4 separate regions of the Homo sapiens genome follow, and regions 2, 3 and 4 are each reported to be linked to region 1. The links are microRNA targets in miRTarBase. Many come from high-throughput screens and were not tested one by one. Region 1 holds a microRNA gene; each other region holds the end of a gene's coding sequence.

Region 1 (5,000 bases):
AGGATCACTTAAGGTCAGGAGTTCGAGACCAGCCTGGCCAACATGGTGAAACCCTATCTCTACTAAAAATACAAGAAAATTAGCCAGGCCTGGTGGTGCATGCCTGTAATCCCAGCTACTCAGGAGGCCTAGACAGGAGAATTGCTTGAACCCAAGAGACAGAAGTTATAGTGAGCCTAAATTGTGCCACTGCACTCCAGCCTGAGTGACAGAGCAAGACTCTGTCTCAAAAAAAAAGTTCATGAGACTGGATTCTTTCATGTGCCCTCACAGCCCTAAAACACCTGGACTTCTCTAGCAAATCATTTGCAGGAACTGTTTTAAGCAAAATGTTTCTTCTAAGATGTCTGATATTTTTAAATGGCTTTTTTTTTGGCTTCCCTGTTCCAAGGTTAGACAGAAAAAATGTAGCAAGTATTGGCCACTTTAGGTACAACACAGATTTCTCCTATATTTGGAGAGTTAATTATTAAATCAAGAGTGTGAGTATTCATTTTCAGTTGGAGCCCTATGGAAGAACTGCTTTGCTCTGGGCTCTCTCCATCTGTACGTTATCTGATATTTAGCTTTATATCACTGGGACATGGTTGCTGCACAAAGAGAAGACAGCTGGCCTGCCCTGGGAGCAGGGTCCCACGAGTTACAAGAGAGTCAGAGAACAAACCAATGTTGTCAAGGTTACACCTTCATTTCCACTGTTCTTTGTTTGAAATGTTATCAGAGCTGCCAGGCACAGTGCCTCATGCCTGTAATCTCGGATATTCAGGAGGCTGAGGTGGGAGGATTGCTCAAGGCCACAAGTTCAGGACTAGCTTGGGCAAAATAGTGAGATTCCATCTAAAAAAATATTATTTATCAGTAATTTTAAAACAAAATTAACTGGGCATGGTGGCACATACTTGTAGTTCCAACTGTTTGGGAGGCTGAGGTGGGAGGATAACTTGAGTCCAGGGGTTGCAGGCTGCAGTGAGCTGTGATGAAACCACTGCACTCCAGCCTGGGTGGCAGAGAAAGACCCCATCTCTCTTTTAAAAAAAGTTATCAGTAGCTCAAATTTCATTAGCTACTTTGTGAAGATGTGTTGATTCTGCCATGAAAGATTTTCTCTGAGAGTCCTATCTGTCTGGCAGCTGGGGAGTAAGTCACCTTATATTGATCTTAAGATTATGGAAGCCTGGGCACGGTGGCTCACGCCTGTAATGCCAGCACTTTGGGAGGCCGAGGCAGGTGGATCACTTGAGGTCAGAGTCGGAGACCAGCCTGGGCAACATGGTGAAACCCTGTCTCTACTAAAAATACAAAACTTAGCTAGGCATGGTGGTGGGCACCTGTAATCCCAGCTACTCAAGAGGCTGAGGCAGGAGAATCACTTGAACCTGGGAGATGGAGGTTGCAGTGAGCCAAGATTGAGACATTGCTGGCTGACAGAGCAAGACTCCATCTCAAAAAAAAAAAGGGGGGTGGGTATGGAAAAGAATGTAATATTTGTGGAATTGCTATGGTTTAATGTACTTTGTATTTTTCTTTTTTTGGTTTCTTCATAGCTCCGTATACTATTATCACGTTCCCTTTTCTATTTGCTGTGATGTTTGGAGACTTCGGTCATGGCATTTTAATGACCCTTTTTGCTGTGTGGATGGTACTGAGGGAGAGCCGGATCCTTTCCCAGAAGAATGAGAATGAGGTAATGTTTAAGTTACATCTGCATTGAACTGAAATTTTATAATTTCCCAAGCATTCATTATGAAAATTATGATCTGGAAGTCTTTTATCCATGAATTTATCAAAAGGAAGTAGAGAAGTTATGTTCATTTTAACACCAAAGACGACATGTGCAAGCTGGAAGTGGTAGTGTGTGCCTGTAGTCCCAGCTACTTGGAGGCTGAGGCAGGAGAATCACTTGAGCCCAGGAATTCGAGACCAGCATAGGCAACATAGTGAGACCCCATCTCTAAAAAAATAAAAATTATTTAGGTTTGGTGCAAAAGTTATTGCGGTTTTGGCTGCCAAAAGAAATGGCCAAAACCGCAGTAACTTTTGTGCCAACCTAATAAAAAAATAGAGGCCACATCCTGTGAAAGTGACTGTCTCATTAGCATTGTATTTTGGTTTTTACTTCAAGCTCTCTGAATCAGGATGGGGTAAAGTAGTGCTGGAGAAAGGGGCAGGTATATTCTGAATAACATTGTCACAATGTGAGCTGCAGTGAGTACATTCTCATTACTTCTTTCTTCTGGTTCCCAGATGTTTAGCACTGTGTTCAGTGGTCGATACATTATTTTATTGATGGGTGTGTTCTCCATGTACACTGGCCTCATCTACAATGATTGCTTTTCCAAGTCTCTTAATATCTTTGGGTCATCCTGGAGTGTACGGCCGATGTTTACTTATAATTGGACGTAAGTTGCAGAAGAAGCTAAAATTCAAAGCTTATTCCTTTCATGTGCAGCCCTGATTTTTAAGACAAGTGGTAAACTGACACTTCTTTAGGAAGTGGTGACAGTGTCTCCTCATTCATGCTCCACACTGTGAGTTGCTTTGTGATTTGTTCAGCAAGTATCCAGGAACTAAGATTAGAAATGATTTTTTTTTTTTTTGGAAACTAAAACCAGATTCCCCAGTTCCCTACTTGATTGTGTGTTTGTGTGTTTAATTTTTCTTTTTGTCATTTTGGATCCCTCAGTCTCAGCTGCTAGTCTCTCCTCTTTATTTTTCCCCTCCCATTTTATTGAAGAGACAAGATAGCTACAGTAATTTATTTTGGGGTCAGTTTCTGGACCCTTGTTGTTTCCCTCTCTTGTTCAAAAATAATGTGACTTTTTCCCTGTCATGGTAGTGAAGAGACGCTTCGGGGGAACCCTGTTCTACAGCTGAACCCAGCCCTCCCTGGAGTGTTTGGTGGACCATACCCTTTTGGCATTGATCCAGTAAGAGGACTTCCTTCCTATATGCTAACCTCAAATTTTTTAACACTAACCCTGAAGCAAGAGAATTAAAATGAAGATAAATAGTTATGTGGGCTTTCACTGGGCATGGTCGCTCATGCCTGTAATCCCAGCACTTTGGGAGGCCGAGGAGGTGGGATCACCTGAGGTCAGCATGGTGAAACCCTATCTCTACTAAAAATAAAATATTAGCCGGGCGTGGTGGCGCATGCCTGTAGTCCCAGCTACCCGGGAGACTGAGGCAGGAGAATCGCTTGAACCTGGGAGGCAGAGGTTGCAGTGAGCAAGCTGCACTCCAGCCTGTGTGACAGAGCAAGACTCCGTCTCAAAAAAAAAAAAAAAAAAAAGAAAGAAAGAAAGAAACAAACAAAAATAGTTATGTGGGTTTTCGTTGACATATTTTTGGGAAACCTTGATGTATGTATTCAGAGGACTTCTAAGCCATAAGAGACCCAAGTGCCTTGAGGAGCCACATACTTTTCCCTGCGCTGCTTATTTCTGAGGTGGTTAATAATATCGACTCTGGGAAGATTGATTTTTCAAGACTCCTTCCCATTTCTTAATTTATTTCTGCTTACTTAGTTTGGTTTTTTATTTTTAGCAGACATTTTAGCAAAGCAGAAATATATTTTTCCTGTGGATTTTAGACTTGCATTCTTATATTTACGAACTTACAAAAACTTATCCGAGAATTAATTTTTTTTTCAAATGCTTAGGCAAATTAAGTATGATCAAGTCTTCTTTATTGTGTGCTGTAAAAATGGAGTGGCGGCAAGAATGTAATACAGGGCATCTGACTGCTGAGGAAAAAAAAAAATAATACAGGCTGGGCGAGGTGGCTCATGCCTGTAATCCCAGCACTTTGGGACACAGAGTCAGGTGGATCACTTGAGGTCAGGAGTTCGAGACCAGCCTGGTCAACATGGTGAAACCCCATCTCTACTAAAAATACAGAAATTAGCTGGGCACGGTGGCATATGCCTGTAGTCCCAGCTACAGGAGGCTGTGGAAGAATTGCTTGCGCCCGGGAGGAGGAGGTTGCAGTGAGCCCAGATCGTGCCACTGCACTCCAGCCTGGGGGACATAGCAAGACTCCATCTCAAAAAAATAGATGGAATGACAGCACCACAGGGCTACAATCAGCGAAACATAGACTGTGGGAAAATATATAAGATAAACAACCCAATTTCTTCAAAAGAAATTTTGTAATGAATGAAAAAGGAAAGATGGAAGGAGAACCTGTAGTTTAGAGACTCAAGAGATATATCTACAATCATAATGTATAAGCCAGGCACGGTGGCTCACGCCTGTAATCCCAGCACTTTGGGAGGCCGAGGCAGACAGATGACTTGCGGTCAGGAAATTCCAGACCAGCCAGGGCAACATAGTGAAACCCCATCTCTACCAGAAGTATAAAAATTGGCCGGGTGTGGTGGTGCACGCCTGTAGTCCTAAGGCAGGAGGCTAAGGCAGGAGAACAGCTTGAACCTGGGAGGCAGAGGTTGCAGTGAGCCAAGATCACGTAACTGCACTCCGGCCTGGGTGACAGAGTGAAGACCCTGTCTCAAAAAAAAAAAAAAAAAAAAATGGTTTGGACACAGATCAGAGAAATTTGAATATTGACTATATATTTTATGATATTAAAGAATCATTGTTAGCTGGGCACGGTGGCTCACACCTGTAATCCCAGCACTTTGGGAGGCCGAGGCTGGTGGATCACGAGGTCAGGAGTTCAAGACCTGCCTGGCCAAGATGGTGAAATCCCATCTCTACTAAAAATACAAAAAAAATTAGCCAGGCGTGGTGGCGAGCACCTGTAATTCCAGCTACTCGGGAAGTTGAGGCAGAGAATTGCTTGAACCCAGGAGGCAGAGGTTGTAGCGAGCCGAGATCATGCCACTGCACTCCAGCCTGGGCGACAGAGTAAGACTCCATCTAAAAGAAAAAAAAAAAAAAGAAATCATTGTTAATGCATTTACGTGTGATGACAATATTGTGGTCATGTTTTAAAAATAAGTCCTGGCCGGGCGCGGTGGCTCACGCCTGTAATCCCAG
Region 2 (8,473 bases), not on the chromosome of region 1:
GAATTAAGAGTATGAGAATACCTTATCAAGAGAGTAATGACAGCTTTTGTACTATAAAGGTATATAGGAAAGGATAGAAGTAGAGGGGTAAGCCTTACATTTTAAGAAGAAATCATATACCATTCCTTACCATTGAAAGTTATAGAATAGAAGGTAAGGAGTTAACTCCTGAATACCTACTGAATATTTGAAAAGAAGTATAATGTTTTGGGGCTGGGCGCGGTGGCTCACACCTGTAATCCCAGCACTTTGGGAGGCTGAGGCGGGTGGATCACCTGAGGTCAGGAGTTTGAGACGAGCCTGGCCAACATGGTGAAACCCCGTCTCTACTAAAAAACAAAAATTAACTGGCCGTGGTGGCAGGTGCCTATAATCCTAACTACTCGGGAGGCTGAGGCATGAGAATCGCTTGAACCTGGGAGGCGCAGGTTGCTGAGATCCCACCACTGCACTCCAGCCTGGGGGACACAGTGAGACTTTGTCTCAAAAAAAAGAAATGTACAATGTTTTGGTTTTTTTGTTTGTTTGTTTGTTTGTTTTGAGACAGAGTCCACTTACTGTGTTCCTCAGGCTGGAGAATCACTGGAACCACCTCCCTGGTTCAAGTGATTCTCCTGCCTCAGCCTTCTGAGTAGCTGGGATTACAGGGATGTGCCACCATGCCTGGCAACTTTTGTGTTTTTAGTAGAGATGGAGTTTCACCATTTTGGCCAGGCTGGTCTCGAACTCCTTACCTCAAGTGATCTGCCTGCTTCAGCCTCCCACAGTGCTGGGATTACAGGTATGAGCCACTGTACCCGGCTGAAAAAGGAGTATAATGGAGATTAAATATCTGGACTGTAGAGCCAGATTTGCCTGGGTCTAATCCCAGCTCTTCCACCTATTAGCTGAGAACCATGAACAAATTGTTGATCTTCCTCTGCACCTCACTTTCCTCAACTGTGAAGTGGGGACAATAATAGGACCTACCTCAGGATTGTAGTGAGGTTTAAATAACACAGTGAAGATAAATTGTTGAGAATAGTACCTGGCACACAGAAATGGTTGCTGTATATGAATTGGCTACAATTATTATTTATTGTTATTGCTCTATGCCAGGCACTTTTTGTTATATCTTTTTTCTAATAACATTGCTTTGAAATGAAAAATATCCTCAATCTGCAGATGAGAAAAAATAGATGATGCTTAGTTTGAGCCCAGAATCATGAGAGACCAAAATCCATACCCTTTCCATTATATCTTAATTTATTTCCAAATGGTAATGTCTAGAATTAAAATGATTTTTTGTGGTTTTATTTCAGGAAACAATTTCTGATAATTGTGTGGTGATTTTCTCAAAAACATCCTGTTCTTACTGTACAATGGCAAAAAAGCTTTTCCATGACATGAATGTTAACTATAAAGTGGTGGAACTGGACCTGCTTGAATATGGAAACCAGTTCCAAGATGCTCTTTACAAAATGACTGGTGAAAGAACTGTGAGTATATCCTCTGTGGTGCTGTTCCTCTTTAATAGGTTGTAAACTAGATCACCCAGAGCCTAGAACCTTGTGTTAGGAAAATGAGCCAGACATTCTCTGAGGATAGATAAAGCAGCTGCAGATCTAGGAACCAGATTCTTAGAATAGGAAACAGCAGAGTTGATTTATTTTATTTTTATTCTGTGTGTGTGTTTTGACTGGGGTTGATGAGTAGTGTTATTATGAGTGCTTGTCTATGGATCTTTGAGTTCCTCTTGGAGCTCTTGGCAAGATGAAAGTATTCTTCCTCCCTTTACCTGGGCAATACAGGGGTTGGTCTTCAATTACTTTTCTAATAGGAGTGCTTTAGTGCTCCATGTTTTTAGATTCTTGAAATTTGGATTTTTCCATAATATGCATAATCAGAAAAATGTACAGTGTTGCCACTTTCAAGTTTATTGAAAGTTTATAGTGCACTCTTTCCCTTCAGTAAACAAATGTAAGAAATAACTAAATATTACTGTTTATCTGCTTTAGTTTATTTAAAGCTTTAGTAATCAGGAAGAAAGGTTTTAGAATCAGATTGTTTGGATTTGAATCCCAGTCTGTCATGTACCATCATTGTGATTTTGTGCAAGTTCCTGTGCCTCATTTTCCTCCAAAACAGGGCTAAAAATAATACCTACCTTAAAGGGTAAAGATTTTAAGATTTAATTTGTGAAAGAGCTTTGTGGTGCCAGGCTCATAAAAGTACCCAGAGTTCAAATGTCTCGTTATTATGTGAAATGATCTTAGTTCTGATACTAGAGTAAAGCCTAATTCTTCTTTTGTTTGTCCAACAGGTTCCAAGAATATTTGTCAATGGTACTTTTATTGGAGGTGCAACTGACACTCATAGGCTTCACAAAGAAGGAAAATTGCTCCCACTAGTTCATCAGTGTTATTTAAAAAAAAGTAAGAGGAAAGAATTTCAGTGATGTTTATACTAATAAGTTTGCTAGTACAGTGTCAGTTATTTAAAGTGGTAATGCCCGATAATGTCTTTTAAATGTTTGAGGATGTTTTAAATACATGCATTGTCTTCACGAAGAAGATGTAAAAATAATGAACAATAAATTGCGGTGGAAACCTCTTCTTCCCACTTGCCAATTCTTGAGAAAAAGGGATGGTATTAAAAAAATGAAAGGTTGGAGTTGTATCAAGATAAGAATGTATTTTATTAGGAATTTAGATATGAATTTTACAACCAAGAGCTAGAAGGTAAGCATTTGGAATTCTTTATTTCCTATTCAGGAGTTAACTCTTTATCTCACATAGTTTTTAAGTGGTAAGGACTGATATTTGATTTCTCTTTAAAATTTAAGGCTTTTGCTGATACACTTGTGAACTAGGCAGGAATATCTTATACGATATTGTGAAAAGCCTTCACACTTTGTACTTGTAGAGTAATAGAAGTATATTAAATTTTTAGCATGGAATGAAATTTATCTTAGAGAAACTAAATTACTCATTTAATGACTTAATAGTTCATTAAGTCATTAATGACTTAATAGTTCATTTGTCATTAAAACTATACCTATGGGCAGAAATTAAAAGGAGAAGATTTCGGCATTGTATGAGGATGAACTTTTGAAACAGTGTAGAAATGTACTTTAGTTGGCATGGGATGGTGGCTCACGCCTGTGATTCTAGCACTTAGAGAGGCCAAGGCGCAAGGATCACCTGAGCTCAGGTGTTGGAGATCAGCTTGGTCTACATAGCAAGACCCCCATATTTACAACAAATAAACAAAAATTAGCCTGGTGTGATGGCACATGCCTGGAGTCCTAGCTACTCAGGAGGCTGAGGCAGGAGGATCTCTTGAGCCCAGGAGTTTGAGGTTTTATATATATATATATATATAAATTTTGAGGTTTTTTATATATATATTTTTGGAAAGTAGAACTCTCCACCTCACAATTTAACTTGAGTACATTTCATATATATATACACACACATACACATTTTATATATTAAATGTACTTGAATTAGATTGTGAGGTGGAGAGTTCTGCTTTCCAGAATTTATGTGTATTTTATTTATTTATTTATTTTGAGACAGAGTCTTGCTTTGTCGCCCAGGCTAGAGTGCAGTGGCGCGATCTCGGCTCACTGCAAACTCCGCCTCCCGCGTTCAAGCAATTCTCCTGCCTCAGCATCCTGAGTAGCTGGGATCACATGTGCCCGCCACCGCACCTGGCTAATTTTTGTATTTTTTAGTAGAGACGGGGTTTCACCATCTTGGCCAGACTGGTCTCAAACTCCTGACCTCATGATCCACCTGCCTCGGCTTCCCAAAGTGCTGGGATTACAGGCATGAGCCACCGTGCCCGGCCTTATGTGTATTGTAATACATATATATATATAAATTCTGGAAAGCAGAACTCTCCACCTCACAATTTAACTCAATTTCCAAGAGCCTTTGAACACTTAATGTGTTCAATACTGGGAATACTATTCAAACTGATTTCAATTCAGCTAAACTTAGCAAACAAGATTTATCCTATAGGAAGTCTTACTTTACAATGATTGAAGACGTTCAGTACTTCATTAATGAAATCGTCTTTCCAGCTTCCTATCAACAAGAATTTTTAAAGTGCCTACTATACAAAGCATTTTCCTAGTTGATCCCACAGAGTCACTTGGGGCAGATTACCAGATGCTGAGAAGAAAAAACCCTTCATCAGAGGTGGAGGAAAAATGGATTTCAAGAGTGCTTCTGGTTTTTGTCAGGATGGACCAGAGAATCTGGAACAGTCCTGAAGAAAATAGCTGGTGGCTTCCTTGGCCTTTTGCCATCAATGATGCTTCTTACTTGGATTTAAACTGCCATTAGGAAACCTCTTGATCAAGAATTTAGACAAGAATTTCATTCCCATGTGATAATTTAGGTTATAACACTAGAATGGAACAAAGAGTAGAATGTCTTTAGTTCTTTATTTTGCATTATGTCATAAGAAAGTTCTTGCTATGTTGTAAAATCGTTGTTAGATTCAGGCTTTTGGGGATTCTGAAAACACATTTTGTTAGAGTTGAAGTCTATTACCTGAGAAAGGTAAAATTGTGTCATAATTGTTCATCATACTAGGTATTAAGGGTAGAGACAAGTTACTTCAAGGTATAGAAACACTGACCAGTACTCGACTGTGAAAAACATCTTTACCTTTAGCATTTTTTTTTTGAAACAGTCTCGCTCCGTTGCTCAGACTGGGGGGCAATGGCGCAATCTCAGCTCACTGCAACTTCCACTTCCTGGGTACAAGCGATTCTCAATCCTCAGCCTCCTGAGAGTAGCTGGGACTACAGGCGAGCACCACCACACTTCGCTAATTTTTTGTATTTTTAGTACAGCCAGGATTTCGCCACGTTGGCCAGGCTGGTCTCAAACTCCTGAGCTCAGGCGATCCGCCTGCCTTGGCCTCCCAAAGTGCTAGGATTACAGGCATGAGCCACTGCACCTGGCCTGTGAAGAAACATCTTTTATCAATGCTTCCTAGACTGGTAGGACATAGGGTGAGAGGCGAGTGGTGGTTCGTTCTTGATTATGTTCAGATCTTGAAAGAATTCAACATTAGGGAGAGAAGCCTTATCAAAAGCCTCAAAAACTCTACTGAAGGTAATATGATACCTGATTCTCACTATGGCTTTATTTAAAATAGAAGAAATAAACCCTTCTAATATCTGCATCTTAGTCTTCTGAATTAAACTCATTGACTAATAAAAGATTTTTACTTTGGAGGGTTTAGCACTGCATCAAAAAGGAAGCAGATCTCTCCTATTTGTTAAACGCTAAGGAATGAAAGAAAATAACAATAAATCTGACCTCTTTTTGTCATATGGCACATTAAATATCTTTGAAAAAAACCCCAAAACAATAATAACAAAAGCTTGCCGCTCTAAAACGTTTAAAATATCGGACACAATAATAAATTTTTAAAAATGCAAGGCTAAGCAGGTTTTAAAAAGTATAGGGACTCTCCAAGAGGAAAACAAAACCAGGAGCAGAATCCAAGGATATAGGGAAGCACTGAAGCCAGCAGCTCCCTTACTGACAGTGCCAATCGTGGAATGCCAACAGCTTTAGTTTTAACTGTATGCAAGGGGCTGGTTACAAAGCTGGGGGTTAAGGGAGAAAGATTTAGATAGGAGACCACAGCATACCACCACTAAATCTTCAGTTAAAAAAATTCGTAATATACTTTCAGAGCATAGCTGATGATTTGCCAAGACAGACAAGCGTTCAGATCACTAAAGGTGTAACCATTAGGTAGGTGACTTAACCTCCCAGAACTTCAAGTTTCTTATAAAATGTAGGTAATAGTACTTTCCTTTAGGATTTACTTTTTGAGGAATGGAGATAATACATGTAAATCTTTCAGAGTGGTTTTTAATAGACAATACATAATGGCTATCATTAATCACAATGGTTCAGGTATGTGTGTTTTCTTGTGGACCCATCAGGGTTTTCCAAGATTCCTGCCTGTACCCAGCCAAGAATTTAGGGGGCAGGGGAAGCCTCTGGGGTTTCGTGTTGTCTTGGATATTGATTTCCATTTCTTCTCCCTTTCCATACCTTACAGCTGGATAAAAGTAAGATAATGGTGACTAAGAAAAACTTGTAATTTTTTTCCTCAGTCCTTATTTTTACATTTTTTATTTACATTTTTTTTTTTTTTTTTGAGACAGGGTCTCCCTCTGTAGCCCAGGATGGAGAACAGTGGCTCTATCATGGCTCACTGCAGCCTCAAACTCCTGGGCTGAAGTGATCCTCCTACCGTAGCCTTCTGAATAGCTAGGGCTACAGGCACATGCCACCATGCTCAACTAATTCTTTTTAGTTTTTTGTAAATATGGGGGTCTTACTGTGTTGCCCAGCAAGATCCCCATAGTTACAACTTTTTAGTTTTGAACTCCTAGGCTCAAGCAGTCCTCCTCCTTTGGCCTCCTGAAGTGCTATGATTACAGGTGTAAGCCACAATGCCCGGCCCTTTATTTTAAGATCTGAAATACGAGCTGTTTACTGGAGTTCATTAATATAAAAAACTAGGCCATTTTTCACTTTATCATTAGATAATCAATTTACATTTTAATTGCCAAAATATCTGTAATTGAAAAGCTGTTGAAGAAAAAAAGGGATCTTCTGTACCTGGATTTTACTGTTTACTGATAAAAAATTACCATTTGAACAACATCTTTTAAAGTCAGGTTTTCTTCATAAGGTTTAATATTGTTAAAATTTATTAAATCTAGTATGTATAATTTGTGATCCTTCTTGTACAAGTGTTGAAATGAGTGCTGTAAAATCAACCAAATGTTTTGAAGTTTTGGTGAATATATTCTGATGTAACTTGCTTTCAGTTACCCACAGTTCAGATCTTAGAACTTTTCAGAAAATTTTTATGGGAATTGAGAGAAAAATGTCTGCAAATTGGCACTGAAACAGTGTTTTTATTTGCATAGTTGACTTTTTGTGTTTGGATGATAACTTTTGCCAAAGGCAATTTTGAGTAGATCTTTTCACAAAAGAATCCTATTTTAAAACTTTAAATAATTTGTTTTCATTAAATCTAATCATTTTGTTATAATTGAATTCCATGGGTAAAGAATCTTTAACTTCATATACTTTTAATACTTACATAAAACTAGATACATTAAAAGGTCAATATTAATTATCAAAACTTAAATTTTACCTTGTTCAAATACAAGATTACTAAAGGCTTTAGATTTTTTAAGGCATATTATAACCTTAACATTCGTATTTCTTGAAAGAGATAGACAGACACTTGTTTAATGTGCATAGAGTTTATTTGGTACATCTATCAATTTCTACAATAACTGACCAAAAACAGTTCACACAGTGTCCACCTGCACTCCATGTCTAAAATGATTTATTTAGTAGGGTATTTTGCAAGGCTAGAAAGGAGAGAAAGGATTTCACAGTATCAGTGAAAACTGTTTTATCATGAAACAAATGTAATACATTAATATATTCATTCATTCTCTATTAGAAAACAGCAAAATTACATTGTTAGTTGTATTATTTACAGTGAAAACTTGGAAGACTTGACAAAGCATCAGTTAGTTTATCAACAGACCTAGGAAGCTCCCTGTCCCCTCCTTTCAGGGTCCTTTCCTTGGAAATGAAATAAACTTAAATCAGATTTTACATAACTTTAAGCACCAGCTTGACAATTTAAAGTTTTATTTCAGTTTTATAAAATACTCCTGCTTTGAAAGGCAAAGTGAATGTAAAAATGTGAATGTAATTAAACAAGTCACTGGCCTGGAAACTTTTTATTGCAATAGTCTTTATGTTTTACTACTATATTCACTTCTTGGAATGAATTTGCTTGTAGGTTTGAAACAAAATATTTGCCTTTTGTCTTGAAAAATTCCCTTAAAAAATTAATTATTTTTGGAACTGTACAACTACATTTTCATTCGATGTTAAATATGCAACTTGGTCCTTGGATATCATGTTACAAAGTCCAACCTGTTGGATAACTTGTTATAGAAAACAATAAAAAACCTTAAACTATCATAAAATATTACTGATGTTAACAGTCATGTATGTATAACACATCACTGTATCTAGATTTTCCTGTTATTGGATGTTTAAATTACCAATGTACAATCAGGTTTTAAAATGTAATACTTAAATTTCCATTCACTATGTAAAATTAAAAGCTCTAAAAGACCCTTTGAGTTCTGTATTTCAGAAACATTAGAACACTATTAAGGCATTATTTAAACAGACCCCAAGGAAAGTAACTAGTATGCCTGAATTACAGAGCAAGTAGTATTTTAAGGCAGTCAAAAGGTTCATTTTTTCACTTTAAGGCTCTTGAATACTTAAGTTTATTCTATGTAGACATTATTCTGTGTAATTTAAATATTCATCAAATGGTCAGTTATTGAAATCAAAGCCTTTATATAAAGCAAATGGACAGTTTAGAACTAGATTATAATACCCCA
Region 3 (8,473 bases), not on the chromosome of region 1:
GTAGATTAGTAGTAAATCTTGAAGTTGGGTATTGTGAGCCCTCCAACTTTGTCCTTCTCTTTCAACATTGAGTTCGCTATTCTGGGTCTTTTGCCTCTTTGCGTAAGCTTTAGAATTGGGTTGTCAATATCCACAAAATAATTTGCTGGGATTTTGATTGGGATTGTATGAAATCTGTAGATTAAGTTGGGAAGAACTGACATCTTTACCATATTGAGTCTTCCTGTTCATGAACATAGAATATCTCTGTGTAGTTCTTTGATATCCTTCATCAGAATTTTGTAATTTTCCTCATTTAAATATTGTATGTATTTTGTTAGATTTATACCTAAGTATTTTCACTTTGGGGCTGCTAATGTAAATGGTATCATGTTTTAAATTTCAGGTTAATCCCAAGCCCTAACCCTTGGCAACCACTGATCTGTTTTCCATTATTATAATTTTGTCATTTTGAAAATGGTATAGAAATGGAAGCATATAGTATGTAAACTGTTCGCCTTTTCAGATTGGTTTCTCTCAGCTTGGTTTATGATGATTTTAATGTATCAATAGAGCAAGCAAAGTCTTAGAGACTGAGTGTCATCCTGTATGGGGAAAGCTTCTCATTCTGTTAGAGGAAACTGGAGAGCAGACATCCAGAAAGCTTTGAGAAATACTGGTATATTGATTTAGAAAATTGTTTTTTGTATGGCAATGAAATTTGCTTAAGGGTAATATGTCTCTTTAGGGCATGATTGGTGACGTGGGATGTATGAATTCTAAATTTTTGTCTGCCACTTAGTTTAGATTACTTATCTATTGAATATTTCCCAGGCAAGGGGAGTTAGCACATGATGAACAGGACTGGAGATCTAATTACAAATGATAGTAAACCAAAGTGCAAAATAACAACGTAAAAATGTCAGTTTAAAATGCTGCACATGGTTGAGCTGCTACTAATCCTGATGTTTTTTTCTTGGGGTGTGGTGTGATCTAGATTGTCAGAAGCTTCAGTTCTGGTAAAAGAGAAGGTGGGGACTTTGTTTGCTGTGCCCTCTCTCCCCGTGGTGAATGGATCTACTGTGTAGGGGAGGACTTTGTGCTCTACTGTTTCAGTACAGTCACTGGCAAACTGGAGAGAACTTTGACAGTGAGTATTACTTACTAAGTTCATCTAAAGAAATATGGTAGGACTTGTGTCTTTCTGAACTCTGAAGTATGTGCCTTTTCCAGAGCTATCGATGTGACCCTCAGTATAAAATATGTTGTTTTAAAACATTTAGCTCCATGTCAAATTCAAGAAGTAAAATTAATGTCAGCTGCTATGATGATCCCCAAATCTCGGTGGCTTAACACTATATAAGTTTGTTTATTTTTATTTTATTTTATTTTATTTTGAGAGGGAGTCTCACTCTGTCACCCAGGCTGGAGTGCAGTGGTGTGATCTCGGCTCACTACAACCTCTGCCTCCTGGTTTCAAGTGATTCTCCTGCCTCAGCCTCCCAAGTAACTGGGACTACAGGCACATGCCACCACTCCTGGCTAATTTTTTGTATCTTTAGTGGAGACGGGGTTTCACCCTGTTGGCCAGGCTGGTCTTGAACTCCTGACCTCAAGTGATCCACCCGCCTCTGCCTCCCAAAGTACTGGGATTGCAGACATGAGCCACTGCGCCCAGCCTAAAGTTTATTATTATGTCACAATGTGATGTGAGTTGGAAAACCCTCCTCCATCTTTCTCCTATGCCATTTGGAATATGTGGCCTCCCAAGATCTCTTTTTCCCTTCCACCCACCTCTGGAAGCCTCATCAGAGTGATTTATTGCAGATCTGTACATCCTAACCCTGTGCTTTACATGTTCCAGGTGCACGAGAAGGATGTGATTGGTATTGCACATCACCCTCATCAGAACCTGATTGCTACCTACAGTGAAGATGGACTCCTAAAGCTCTGGAAACCATAATTCAACTTTTCTTTTTAAATCAGCTCGAAAGCATGTACTTAAATGAAGCATATTCATGTAATGTGCTTTTTTTTTTTTTTGCCAGCTTTTCTAAGCAAATAGATTGTCTGAATTAGTCACAGAATAATTTTGTGAAAATTCATGTTTAAGTAGCAACTACCCTTTCTTTTTTTATATATTTTTAAGGTATTAGTTTATCTTCTTCTAACTGGTGCAGTCACTTAATGTTTTCATTAATCTTCGACCTGGAGAGTGAAATACTGATATTTCTAGAAAAAAATTCTACTCCTCTGATTATTTGAAATGCTGAGGAAAATGTCCCTCCCATAGTAAAACTTGTAAATAAGGAACTATATCATATTCAGTAGCTGTGTTCTGTTCCATCTTTTTTTTTTTTTTTGAGATGGAGTTTTGCTTGTTGCCCAGGCTGGAGTGCAGCGGCACGATCTTGGTTCACTGCAACCTCCGCCTCCCAGGTTCAAGCGATTCTCTTGCCTCAGCCTCCCGAGTAGCTGGGGACTACAGGTGTGCGACACCATGCCTGGCTAATTTTTTTGTATTTTTAGTAGAGATGGGGTTTCACCATGTTGGCCAGGCTGGTCTCAAACTCCTGACCTCAAAGGATCCACCCGCCTTGGCCTCCCAAAGTGCTGGGATCACAGGCGTGAGCCACCATGCCCGGCCCATCTTTTTTTTTTTTTTTTTTTTTAAAGATGTTAATAAACTTTATACCTTTCTGGAGACTTTGTTCTAAAATGTACATAAATGCTCATCTAGTTAACATATTTACTTAGAATGTGGGAGGAGGAGTCACATTATTATCCCTGAATCTCAAGTACAGCAGAAGTGAATTCCTGGGATAGTAGGATAGACTAACATGTAAAAAGGCCAGGTGATGCATAGGTTCTCATTTCACTGCCCTCAGCCTTCCTCTCCTTCTGAGCTGTGCCTTCTCACATGTTCAGTCAACTCCAGGGAATATTGTCTCCATCTTCTGGATAGAACTAGTTGCAGGATCCGTTACAAGAATTCAGAGTTTTGGCATCTCCCCTTTGTATGTTGTAGGAGAAGGTTTGGCATTGAAAATGTGCTGTTGTTCCAAAGAAAAATTAGCAAAGGACTTGAGATTTAGAAAAGTCTCCTTTGTAATGTGCATCATTACCAGTTATCTAAAGAAAAACATGTAAAAGCCAACAAAACCCTTGAAAATATTTTGCATATGGATGTCTGTTTCACGTTTCAACTGAAGATGTATAGAGCACCTCTGATGATGAGGAAGATACCATGCTAGGCAGTACTTTCAAGAACGTGAGTTCTTATTTCTGCAGGCCTTTTGTGCCCCCTTTTAAATGTTAGCATTTATTAGGTACAAACTAGTGGGGAAGGTTTTTTTAAAAAGTTTTGCAGTCTTGTAATTTACCTTTTTAAAAAATTTATTTTATTTTTCTGAGATGGAGTCTTGCTCTGTTGCCCAGGCTGGAGTGCAGTGGTGCCATCTCAGCTAACTGCAACTTCCACTTCCCAGGTTCAAGCGATTCTCCTGCCTTAGCCTCCCAAGTAGCTGGGACTACAGGCGCATGCCAGCATGCCTGGCTAATTTTTGTATTTTTAGTAGAGCGGGGGTTTTGCCATGTTGGCCAGGCTGGTCTTGAACTCCTGACCTCAGGTGATCCGCCTGCCCTGGCCTCCCAAAGTGCTGGGATTACAGGCATGAGCCACTGCGCCCAGCCTTGTAATTTACCTTTGATGGTGACCTGAAATGCAGTATGATCCTATATGTGGCACGTAGTAATGTTCAGTGTTTGCTGAATTAATTCTGGGCAGCACTAAGAAATCCCTCTTTCCCAGTCATATTCTATAACACATTTCCCATTTGCCACAAAACCTGCAGCTTTTTGGTCCAGGTAATGACATTTGCTGCCATTTTGATGATTTAAAAATGGTCGTGGGAGTTGAACATAGTCATGAATTCAGGATTCCTGAGCATGTAGACAGTCATCCCAGTGGAAAGACACGTTCACTTAAGAGAAGTTTAAGTTAGAGGAAACAGTTTATGCTAAAAAAATTTTTAGAAAAGTCCTTGAGAATTTTTGATTTAGTCTTGACCTCATGAAGCTGGTAGTTATGATGTGCATAGTTTGTATCACCGTTTATGAAGATGGAGAATCTAGTCAGCACGTGTTGGTTTATTCTAGGAATTTTTAGGGAACACTTCTGTTGCTGGCACCAGGTGATGAATATGGTTAAAAAAAGACTCGTTTCTGCCTAAACATAGGGAAGAAGAGCAAATTAAAAGGAGTAATTAAAACTGATAAAAGCTCAAGTTACCTTTGTGATGATGAGGCGGGCAGTTAACGCGAAAGGGTTGGGAAAGGCTTCCTGGAGGGACTAGGGGGCGGTCTAAGCACAGGGAACCTAACCGGGGACTCCAGTGTGGCACAGCGGCAAGGTATGTGCTGGGCAAAATGATAGGTGTCTTGGGAGACCAGGCAAAGAGAGCTGGATTAGGAGCCGTTAAGTATATATTTTTCTTCTTTTTAAATAAAATAATGCACTGGGTGAACATGTAAACGCTAAGTTGAAAATCTGCCTTTCCCAGGTAACCCTTGTTAATCTTTCTACAACTTCATTTCGTACAAACCTGAAAAACACACTGATTTTGTCTTTAAATGGGCACACGCTGCTTACACTCCTCGGCGCCTAGCCTTTCTGAAGCCCCACGCGGCCGTCCCTCCAGCATTGAAGGCTGGGGCAGCCCAGCTCCCCTCCAGCGCCCTTACAGCCAGACCGCGGCGGGGTCGGGCCGCGCACGCGCAGGGCGGACGGCCGGATCTGGGGCGCCGCTGCTCCGGGTGGTCGGAGGTAGGAGTCCCATCTTGGGTCCAGGGCCGGTAGAGCCCCTTACCGGGGGTAGGGAGACTGCGCACCCGCTAGAGCCAACTGTCAGGGCCTGCAGACGTCGGGTGACGTCACTGTTACAAAATTGGCGGTCACATCGTCTTAAGGGCCGGTGGCAGCGGCTGCGCGAACGGGAGTTGGCTGCCGGGAATCAGTGCTCACTTCCTTCTGAATTGGGCGTGTGCAGTCGGTTCCTAGGGAAGTGCTCTGCTGCAGCCACCAGATTTAACGGATGCTGCTCTCTAGCACTTAACATAGAAGCTAAACTACCTGGCGTTAAAATTAATTCCATGAGCATAAGGACATTTGTCCTATCCCCTATTCTGCTGTTGAATTAATGACTGGAAAACATTGCGCGGAGGTATTTGGGAGTAGTATGGCTTTTTTTTTTTTTTTTTTTTTAACAGCAAATGGTATAAATCTCAGGTACAATTCAGTATCTTCTTCACCAGTTGTTTTTTTTCAGCATGTATTATTACTACCACTAACGGCCTCTGTTGAGCCCTTCCTTGCTATGTAAGCAGCCATATTTAATTCTCAGAACAATGTAATGAGGGTGCGCAAATGCACATGAAGAAACAGGTTTCCAGACGTGAGGCACCTAACTCAGTCCAACTTGCACGAAGCTCGCATTGAAAACCAGATGTGACTCCGAAGCTAGGTTTTTTTTCTCTCTTGCCTCACTCTCAATATTGCTGTCAGTTCCTCCTCAATCTTTAGGTTTGGGCAGGGACAAAGAATACATGGATTGTTCCTCCACATGCTGCAAACACATTCACCTAAGCAGAGCACAGGTAGTGAGATGAGTAGAGAGAACTGAATTAGAGGATTCTGGATGTCAGTCTTTGCTGTCACTTCTTTTGGCTTGTGCTAGAACAGTGGTTCTTACAAGTGTCACGTGATAGACACATTCTAAGGTCCTATCCCAGACCTACAGAATCAGAAATTGGTGGTGGGGCCCAGCAAGCGTGCTCAAATTTGAGAGCAGGTAGACTACAGGGTAGTTTCCGCATATACAAAAGGTGTTTTAATTCTTGCTGTCAGTCTCAGAAGTTTCATGCTGAGATAACCAAATTTAAATGATAAAGGTGCAAGACTGACTCTTAAAATCACATTTTTTCAAATTGCCATAGCTTGCTAGTGTTCTCATTCACTGTGCTTTTACAGCTTCATTTTCCACTATTTTAAGAGAAGAAATTGCTATGAAGTGTATGTCCAAGTGAGGAAGTTCCCTGGTCTGAGGTTGTTTAAAACTTACAATAGGCCGGGCACGGTGGCTCAAGCCTGTAATCCCAGCACTTTGGGAGGCCGAGGTGGGTGGATCACGAGGTCAGGAGTTCAAGACCACCCTGGCCAACATGGTGACACCCTGTCTCTACTAAGGATACAAAATTAGCCGGGCATGGTGGCACACGCCTGTAGTCCCAGCTACCTAGGAGGCTGAGGCAGGAGAATAGCTGGAACCCGGGAGGCAGAGGTTGCAGTGAGCTGAGACTGTGCCACTGCACTCCAGCCTGGGTGACAGAGCAAGACTTGGTCTCAAAAACAAAAAACAAAAAAACCAAACTTGGAATAGCAAGGGCTGCCCATTATTTAACCTTCCACGGCAATTTTAACAGTGGTATTCTGTTCCAAGTGGTTAATATTAAATCCATGTGTCAGTGTTGGTGGCTTTCAACCTTGGCTGCGCATAATCATTTTGATGCTTAGGCTACACCCAGCCGAGTTATACAGAATCCCTGGAGGGTGGGACCTGATGAGTGTTTTAATGTTTCCCGGGTAATTCCAATGGTAGCCAAGGTTAAGAACCAGTACCGTACGTACAAAAAAGTTGAGAAGCTAATTTCACGTACAGAAAATTTGCCACTGTTCCAAGAGCACTCTCAAGCGACATAATTGGCCTCTACTCCTATTCCCTACAAGTATGAATGGGCAGGAGAAGCATCACAGAGAAAGCAGAGTTAGTGCTGGAACTTGTATTTTTGTGGATGATGACCTTGGTTAATGTTTTTTCATAGGCTCTGTTTCATAGGCTTTGTTTTTTCATAGGCTCTCCCTCATTACATTGTTCTGAGAATTAAATATGGCTGCTTACATAGTAATGAAGGGTTCAACAGAGGCTGTTAGTGGTAGTAATAATACAAGCTGAAAAACTACACAGACAAACCTATCAGTTTCTGCCTCTTCAGGATATAACTATTAGGTTAGTGCAAAAGTAATTGCGGTTTTTGCCATTAAAAGTAATGGCACATTACTTTTGCACCAACCGACCTAATATGACTTTCTTTTAGTGTTCTTAGGATTTTTAATTGTAAAACATGTAACAAATTTTCCTAAACAATTGTGCAATTCAGTGGCATTATTTACGATGTTACGCAACCACTATTGTATTTCCAAAATGTCATCACCCTAAACAGAAGCCCTGTAACATTGTCAATTAACTTCTCCTTCCCTTCCCCTCAGCCTTTGGTACTGTTTCTGCCTCAATGCATTTGTCTAAGTTTAGTTCATATAAGTGAAATTATACAATACTTGTCCTTTTTTATCTGGCTTATTTCATTTAGCATGTTTTAAAGGTTCATCCATGTATCAAACAGTAAAGTGCTTCATATTTGGGGGAAGTATAAAAAGTATTCCTTTTAATGGCTGTGTATTTCACAGTGTATGTACACATGTATATTGAGAATTGAGAGATTTGTAGGTACACATTAACCATTTGTTGGTGGACAGTCAGGTTTCCACTTTGGGCTGTTGAGAATGCACAGTAAACACTGACCATACGAGTTTTTTTTTTTTTTTTTTTTTTTTGAGACAGTCTCCCTCTTGTCGCCCAGGCTGGAGTACAATGATACAATCTTGGTTCGCTGCAACCTCCACCTCCTGGGTTCAAGCGTTTCTCCTGCCTCAGCCTCCCAAGTAGCTGGGATTATAGGCGCCCACCACCACACCCGGCTAATTTTTGTCTTTTTAGTGGAGACGGGGTTTCACCACGTTGGCCAGGCTGGTCTTCAACTCCTGACCTTAGGTGATCAGCCCGCCTAGGCTGCCCAAAGTGCTGAGATTAGAGGTATGAGCCACCGCGCCCGGCCTTCATTCGTTTTTAATTCCTTTTGTATAGTCATCCCTCAGTATCCATGGGGGTACTGGTTCCAGGACTTTCCATGGATACCAGAATCCGAGGGTACTCAAGTCCCTGATATAAAACAAGATGGTTATTTGCATATAACCTACACATCCTGCGTAATTTAGCCATCTAGCTCTAGGTTACTGGTAATACCTAATACAATGTAAGTACTATGTAAACAGCTGTTATACTTTTAACAGCTGAAGTCTGTACATGGTCAGGAAACAATTTTTCCCAATTGTTTTTGATCCAAAGTTGACTAAATCCATGGATGTGAAACCCAAAAAGGAGGGCCAGCTCTGGGTCATGTGGTAATTCCATGTTTAGCTTTTTAAGCAGCTGCCAGACTTTTCTACAGCAACTGCAACATTTTACATTACCACCAACAAAGTACAGAGGGTTCCAATTTCTCCATATTCTTATTTTCCATTTTTTGGATTAGAGCTATCCTATTAGGTATGAAGTGGTATCTGGTTTTTATGTGCATTTCCCTTATGACTGACAAACGC
Region 4 (6,173 bases), not on the chromosome of region 1:
ACTGCATCATATGCATGAACCATAACTTACTTAAGCATATTGTGTATTTTGGAAGTTTCCTGAGTTTTTGGCATTATGATCCACATGGTGCCTGCAAACCTAATAATGACCCTGTAGATACAAGGGGATGTAGGAAGGGGGTGCACATGGGGACCTTCTCTTTTTATTCTATACGATTCTAATAATACATCCACACACTAATTGTATAATAACTTCCTGCACCTCAGTAAAGAACTATTTGCTGACATTTTGGATCATCTTCCTTAATAGGGAATTACTATGTCAAAAGGAAGCAGTTATTTTTTTTTTTTTTTTTTGAGACAGTCTCACTCTGTCACCCAAGCTGGAGTGCAGTGGTAAGATCACAGCTCACTGCAGCCTCAACCTCCCAAGCTCCAGTCATCTTCCCGCTTCAGCATCCTGAGAAGCTGGGACTACAGGCGTACGCCACCACACCCAGCTAATTTTTAAACCATTTTTTAACTTAACTTTTTTTTTTTTTGAGACAGAGTCTCACTTTGTTGCCCAGGCTGGAGTGCAATGGCATGATCTCGGCTCACTGCCATCTCCGCCTCACAGGTTCAAGCAATTTTCCTGCCTCAGCCTCCCAGGTAGCTGGGATTACAGGCATATACCACCACACCAGCTAATTTTCATATTTTTAGTAGGGATGGGGTTTCGCCATATTGTCCAGGCTGGTCTCGAACTCCGGAGCTCAGGTGATCCGCCCACCTTGGCCTCCCAAAGTGCTAGGATTATAGGCATGAGCCACTGTGCCAGGCCAATTTTTTAATTTTTTGTAGATACGGGATCTCCCTATGTTGCCCAAGCTGGTCTCCAATTCCTGGGCTCAAGCAATCCTCCTGCCTCAGCCTCCCAAAGTGCTGGGATTACAGATGTGAGGCACCATACCCAGCCAAAAGGAACAAATTTTTCAAAGTTCTGAGATAACTGCTTTATAAAAAGTGCATTTCTGTGCCCATCAGTGGAGCACACCATTGTCCACCTTCCCATACCTACACCAAGACAGCCTTCTAGATTTTTTTAAATGCTCTATCCTACAGCTCTTTCAAACTTGTAGTGCACTGGGAGGATATAAGGCAGTAGGGAAACAGTGATGGAGCACAAAAACCCCTTTCCTCTAGTCAGGCTTATCCTTGCCACTAAGAAACAGTCTCAAGAATCTGGGAAAGAAACTAAATAGCAAGGATCCTTCTATGAATGCCCAAAAAGATGAATCTCACCGCTTCACCTTCCTCCTCATCCTCAGAGTTGGAGTCAGCTCCATAGTCATCTACCGTATCAGCATCGTCCTCGGAGCCCCAGAGGTCCCCGTGGTTCACCATACCATCTTCTTCAGAGTCTTCCTCCTCCTCTTCCTCATCACTGCCAGGTGCTGGGCGCTTCTTGCCTCGAGGAGCATTAAATAGGGACTGGGGTCCCTTCTTACCAGCTGTCTGGACAGCTCCTGCAGAGATCCCTAAGGGTTTGAAGAGTCCTGGACTAATGGCAGCCACACATTCCCTGGCCCCACACCCTGGGAGCCTGTACTTTCTACCCCTCAGAATGTCCTTTGGCTGTTCCTTTCACTCCGGAAATGTTTAGCGAGTTCTTCCCTACCCAGGACCCAAAGGGACTCCTCATGTAGCATCCAGCTCTTAGTTTCACGGACCTTTTGGTAGCTTTCCAGGCAATGGTTTGGCCTCAGGAGACTTATTTGTCTTAGGGGCTTCAACAGAGCCCAATCTCCTCTTGGCTGCCCTGAAAAGACACAAGAGATTCAAGGAGTGAAGAAATGGGAAGATACTTCCAGGCTCTGCCATTTCCACCATAGGGAAATGTGAGAGTCTAGAATTAACTCTGTGGTCAAAGATGAGCAGTACCAATTTAACCTACTTAAGTTTTGACACCCACACTTACCTCTTTCGAGCACGACTAGACAGCCTCTTGGAATTTTCGTCACTTACTGTTTAAAAAAGAAAAACGAGGCAGAACAAGTTACAGGGGACATTAAAAATAAATGGGAACGGAAATAAACATGGTAAGAGAATTAGTACACTAATTAAAAGGAGTCCATTTAAATCTCAGCCCTGTTATTATTTAATAACTGTATACAAGTTTCTTTTTTTTTTTTGAAATGGAGTTTCACTCTTGTCTTCCAGGCTGGAGTGCAATGGCGTGATCTCAACTCACTGCAACCTCCTTCTCCCAGATTCAAGCGATTCTATTGCCTCAGCCTCCCATCACCACACCCAGCTAATTGTTGTATTTTTAGTAAAGACAGGGTTTCACCATGTTGGCCAGGCTGGTCTCGAACACTGGACCTCAGGTGATCCACCTGCCTCGGCCTCCCAAAGTGTTTCCTTAATAGTGCCTCTCTCACAGGACTCTAAGATGATTAAGCGATATAACATGACCAACAAGTTTAATACAGTGCCCAGGACTTCCTACTATCTCAATAAACTGCATCCTTTATCCAATGCCCAACACAAACTCCCGGTCCAGTGTTACCTCCCACCAGTCTTCCACACAGTATACTACTACTCGGCATGAAGCAGCCAGATCCGTGCTTTTCCATTTCCACCCCTTCCAAAAGGCAAATCAGTGACTGACCCCTCCCCTTCACTACTTCCTCTTGCTACAATGTTACCCATTTTTCAAAACCCAGCTTAACAAAAACTTTTACAGTTCTGCATGGGCTCCCCCTTCCTCTGAACTCACAATTGTTTTAAATCACACTTTTCCCTTGCATGAATAATAGTTGTGTCCGTGTCTTCACATCTCTACGACCTAAACAGTTCCCTACAATCTAAACGGCTGTTTCATTCATACCTCCTAGTAACTCATACAGAGAAGATTCCACTTAAATATAAAATGAACAGAAACTAAAAAAGAGAAGAGGTTATAATACAGAATACTGCAAAAGCTGAGGGATCAGGAGGCCACAACTAATCCTTACCTGCAGGCAAGAATCTGACGAGTTCTGTCTCGGCACCCTTCTGCTTCCGGGCCTTTCGGCCTGGCCCCCGCTTCTCCTTCGTAGGGTCCAACTTGCGCCCCATGGTACTGTGGCAGGCAGAAATGGGAGAAGGTGGCGTCGCGCGTGTCGGAGGGAACGGCAGAACGCACGCTTGGCGTATTATAGTGGGAAAGGGCACAGCCTCAACTCAGCACCCGCAACTCACTCAGCACTCCCGACTCAGCACCCGCGACTCAAGCACCCCCGCTATCCCCCTGGAGGCCCGACCGAACGCCCTCCCACCTGAAACCCAGGTAGCGCACCCTTCTCCCCACGTCCCAGACCAGGTCAGTGCTGCCACTCTTCGTCCCCCAATTTCCTCTAGACCCACCAGAATGCGGGTTAATGTCCGAGAGTGCCCTTCGGGCGGCCCTCCACGTGCAATCCGGACCTAGCTTTCGGCCGGCACTCGCCACAGAATCGTTCCACGCAGGCGCACGGGTAGCGCTAGCCTCGCGGCCCCGCCTCTTCCTGTTGCGCCTAGTCGGCCGCCGCACCCGGAACTTACGCTCGCCCTGGGAACGCCAGCGGAGCCGGCGGCGGCGAGTAGGGGGCAATTCGAAGGAGACGCGCAGCTTACACCCGCGGCGGGTGGAGGGAGCAATGTGACGAAACCATTGAGCTTGACCGACCTTCCCTCATGGAGTTGGCTTTTAGCCTCACGGCCGGTTTCTGTTGGGTGAAAGCCGCACCTTCTCCTCGAACCAGGGCCCGACATTGGAGCCCTCTCCCTCGCATCCACTGCCCTAGTCCAGCGTCAAGATCACGGAATTCCAGGCTGGGCGCAGTGGCTCACGCCTGTAATCCCAGCACTTTGGGAGGCTGAGGTGGGTGGATCACTTGAGGTCAGGAGTTCGAGACCAGCCTGGCCAATATGGTGAAACCCTGCTTCTACTAAAAATACAAAATTAGCCGGGCGTGGTGGCGGGCGCCTATAATCCCAGCTACTCGAGAGGCTGAGGCAGAATTGCTTGAGCCCGGGAGGCGGAGGTTGCAGTAAGCCGAGATCGTGCCACTTAAGCCTCACCAAGAGCGAAACTCCACCTCAAAAAAAAAAAACAAAAAAACCAGCCGGGCTCGGTGGCTCACGCCTGTAATCCCAGCACTTTGGGAGGTCGAGGCGGGCGGATCACGAGGTCAAGAAATCCGAGACCATCTTGGCCAACCTTGTCTCTATTAAAAATACAAAAATTAGTTGGGCATGGTGGCTGGCGCACGCGTGTAGTCCCAGCTACTCGGGAGGCTGAGGCAGGAGAATCGCTTGAACCCGGGAGGGGGAGGTTGCAGTGAGCTGAGATCGCGCCACTGTACTCCAGCCTGGCAACAAAGCGAGACTCCATCTCAAAACAAACAAACAAAAAAAACCGTGGAATTCCATGCCACTTACCTCCTCCTCTTTGCCCCTTTTTTAAAAATCTTTTTATAGAGACGGGTTGTAGGGGGTGGCGTCTCACTATATTGCCAGGGCTGGTCTAGAACTCCTGGGCTTAAGCGATCCTCCTGCCCCCACCTTTGTGCTGAGATTACAGGCTGTGAGCCACCGTGCCCCGCCCTCCCAGCACCTTCCTTGATGCTGACCCCTGCTCAGCCCCTCAATTAAGGTGCTGCACTGCACCTCATTCGCAGGGGGCCTCTTCGCCGGAACTCGCTTTCAGGTGGGTCTACAATTAGTTGGGAAACAACGGGTTGCAAGGCTGACCTGGTCTGGGACATGAGAAGGGGTGAACTACAAGGGTTTCAAGGTTGGAGGACGTTAGGTCGGGCCTCCGGGGGTGTGGGATTGAGGCTGTGTTCTTCCACAAATTGCATCCCAATTTTGCACAACTTAGCAAGAAAACCCCCCTCAGCCTTCCTAGAAACTAACATTAAGGTAGTGGTTAGGTGTTAAAACCGTTCCATGTACTTCACTGGTTTAACTTGACAACCGTATGAGGTATACATGAGATATCTGCATCCCACCAAAGTTAAACAACTTGCTCAAGGTCACAGAGCCATTAAGCGGCGGTGCCCGCAGTTTTGCAGCCTCTCATTTTCCACAGGTGGAAGTCAACGTTGGCAAGGCACATACTGCACCCACACACAGAACCCAGTTACTCAGTGGGGTATCAGGACACCACGTAGCCCTTAATTTTCAACTATACAGGTGCCAGGCTCCTGCCGCACACACTCATCCACCTGCACCTACACCCACACTGAACCAGAGCACTAAAATACAAGGAAACTTTTATTTTCAATTTTCATCAAGAAATTTGCTGTGGTTTTTTATGCTTTTGGTTTTTTCCTTTTTTTTTTTTTCCACTTTATTTCATTTAGCCGCTCAGTGGCTAGAGCCGCTGGGTTCCTGGTATTAAAAAGATGCCAACAGAGGTAGCTGTGTCTCGCCCAGGGGCCCAGCCCACTCTGAATACCCCCCAAAAAGGAGAAAAGAAAACACAAAATAAACCAACAAAATAAAACCAAAAGGAGGAAAAAATTCAGATCATTTTCTTCAAGCCTGGCAGGAACCCACAACAGTTTGTGTGTAACAGGCGTTACAGTGGGGAGAAGCCAGGGTCCAGAAGGCCAGCCCGCCAGCTCCTGCAGATGGCGCCAGCGCTACTGCTGCATGTCTCTTCTGCAGGAAGGGCACCACTGCCCCTCACTCCCTCCCCTCCCCCAGTGCACTGGGGCTGTTCCTTTACAACATGGAAGATGGGCAGAAGGAAGGTGAGGGTCTCTCAGGCCCCCAGGGGAGAAGCTGGGACAAGAGAAAGTGAGGAAGGTCACTGCTCAGCGGTGGAGGTGGTATCAGTCTGCATCTTCACTGCTGCTGGGCTACCTAGAGAAGGAGACCCGAGGAGTCAGAATTCCAGATGATAGGAATCCACCCAATCTCAAGGGAATTCACTGATAGGCCACCCACCCAGTATGTAAAGCTAGGGACATACAGCAAAGTTACAAGCTCCAGAATGGTTCTGCAGGAAGAGGTGGTGTCAAGAAGAAAATGGTCCTACCTGCTGTGGGGTAGGTTCGGGTGCCCGGTTTGCCAGGCGGCTGAGAATGTTACGCTCTGACATCTGTAACCTCACAGCAACTGGGGGAATTCGGGCAATGGTAGCTGGGAGTCGAGTCACATCAGCTTTCATGTCACTCAGCAGTTCTTCCAGCTGTTTCA

Evidence for each region. The annotated mature microRNA hsa-miR-548at-3p reads CAAAACCGCAGUAACUUUUGU and lies in region 1 at 2,021-2,041, shown strand. An mRNA with a match to its seed (bases 2 to 7 or 8) in the 3' UTR can be bound and repressed. Matches are read on the target gene's strand: a 7mer-m8 pairs with bases 2 to 8, a 7mer-A1 pairs with bases 2 to 7 and ends in A, and an 8mer does both.
Region 2: the mRNA of GLRX2 is a reported target of hsa-miR-548at-3p. The part of its 3' UTR that is shown has no 7-base or 8-base seed match.
Region 3: the mRNA of SMU1 is a reported target of hsa-miR-548at-3p. Seed matches in the 3' UTR shown: 7mer-m8 at 7,063-7,069.
Region 4: the mRNA of CHD4 is a reported target of hsa-miR-548at-3p. Seed matches in the 3' UTR shown: 7mer-A1 at 5,471-5,477.

What each region holds. Positions count from the first base shown.
Region 1 is chr17:42,492,790-42,497,789 of GRCh38, forward strand. MIR548AT (microRNA 548at) reads left to right here and starts at 1,984; the gene lies at 1,984-2,041. It overlaps ATP6V0A1 (ATPase H+ transporting V0 subunit a1), which reads left to right. Exons shown (of 22, transcript NM_001130021.3): 12 at 1,545-1,684; 13 at 2,245-2,399; 14 at 2,837-2,927.
Region 2 is chr1:193,090,589-193,099,061 of GRCh38, reverse strand. GLRX2 (glutaredoxin 2) reads left to right here. Exons shown (of 4, transcript NM_197962.3): 3 at 1,302-1,478; 4 at 2,303-2,592. The coding sequence ends at 2,437. It overlaps RO60 (Ro60, Y RNA binding protein), which reads right to left. Exons shown (of 9, transcript NM_001173524.2): 9 at 7,843-8,473. Among named protein-coding and RNA genes, the nearest start is that of GLRX2, 11 kb to the left of the region's middle.
Region 3 is chr9:33,040,762-33,049,234 of GRCh38, reverse strand. It overlaps SMU1 (SMU1 DNA replication regulator and spliceosomal factor), which reads left to right. Exons shown (of 12, transcript NM_018225.3): 11 at 977-1,129; 12 at 1,844-7,470. The coding sequence ends at 1,942. Among named protein-coding and RNA genes, the nearest start is that of DNAJA1, 20 kb to the right of the region's middle. RefSeq lists a silencer at 4,577-4,896 and an enhancer at 4,751-5,252.
Region 4 is chr12:6,564,857-6,571,029 of GRCh38, forward strand. It overlaps CHD4 (chromodomain helicase DNA binding protein 4), which reads right to left. Exons shown (of 40, transcript NM_001273.5): 39 at 6,013-6,173; 40 at 5,226-5,837. The coding sequence ends at 5,820. NOP2 (NOP2 nucleolar protein) reads right to left here and starts at 3,435. Exons shown (of 16, transcript NM_001258308.2): 1 at 3,351-3,435; 2 at 2,960-3,066; 3 at 1,921-1,966; 4 at 1,673-1,761; 5 at 1,245-1,480. The coding sequence starts at 3,062. CHD4-AS1 (CHD4 antisense RNA 1) reads left to right here and starts at 3,515. Exons shown (of 3, transcript NR_199067.1): 1 at 3,515-4,674. RefSeq lists enhancers at 3,285-3,906, 3,730-3,779, 5,447-5,741.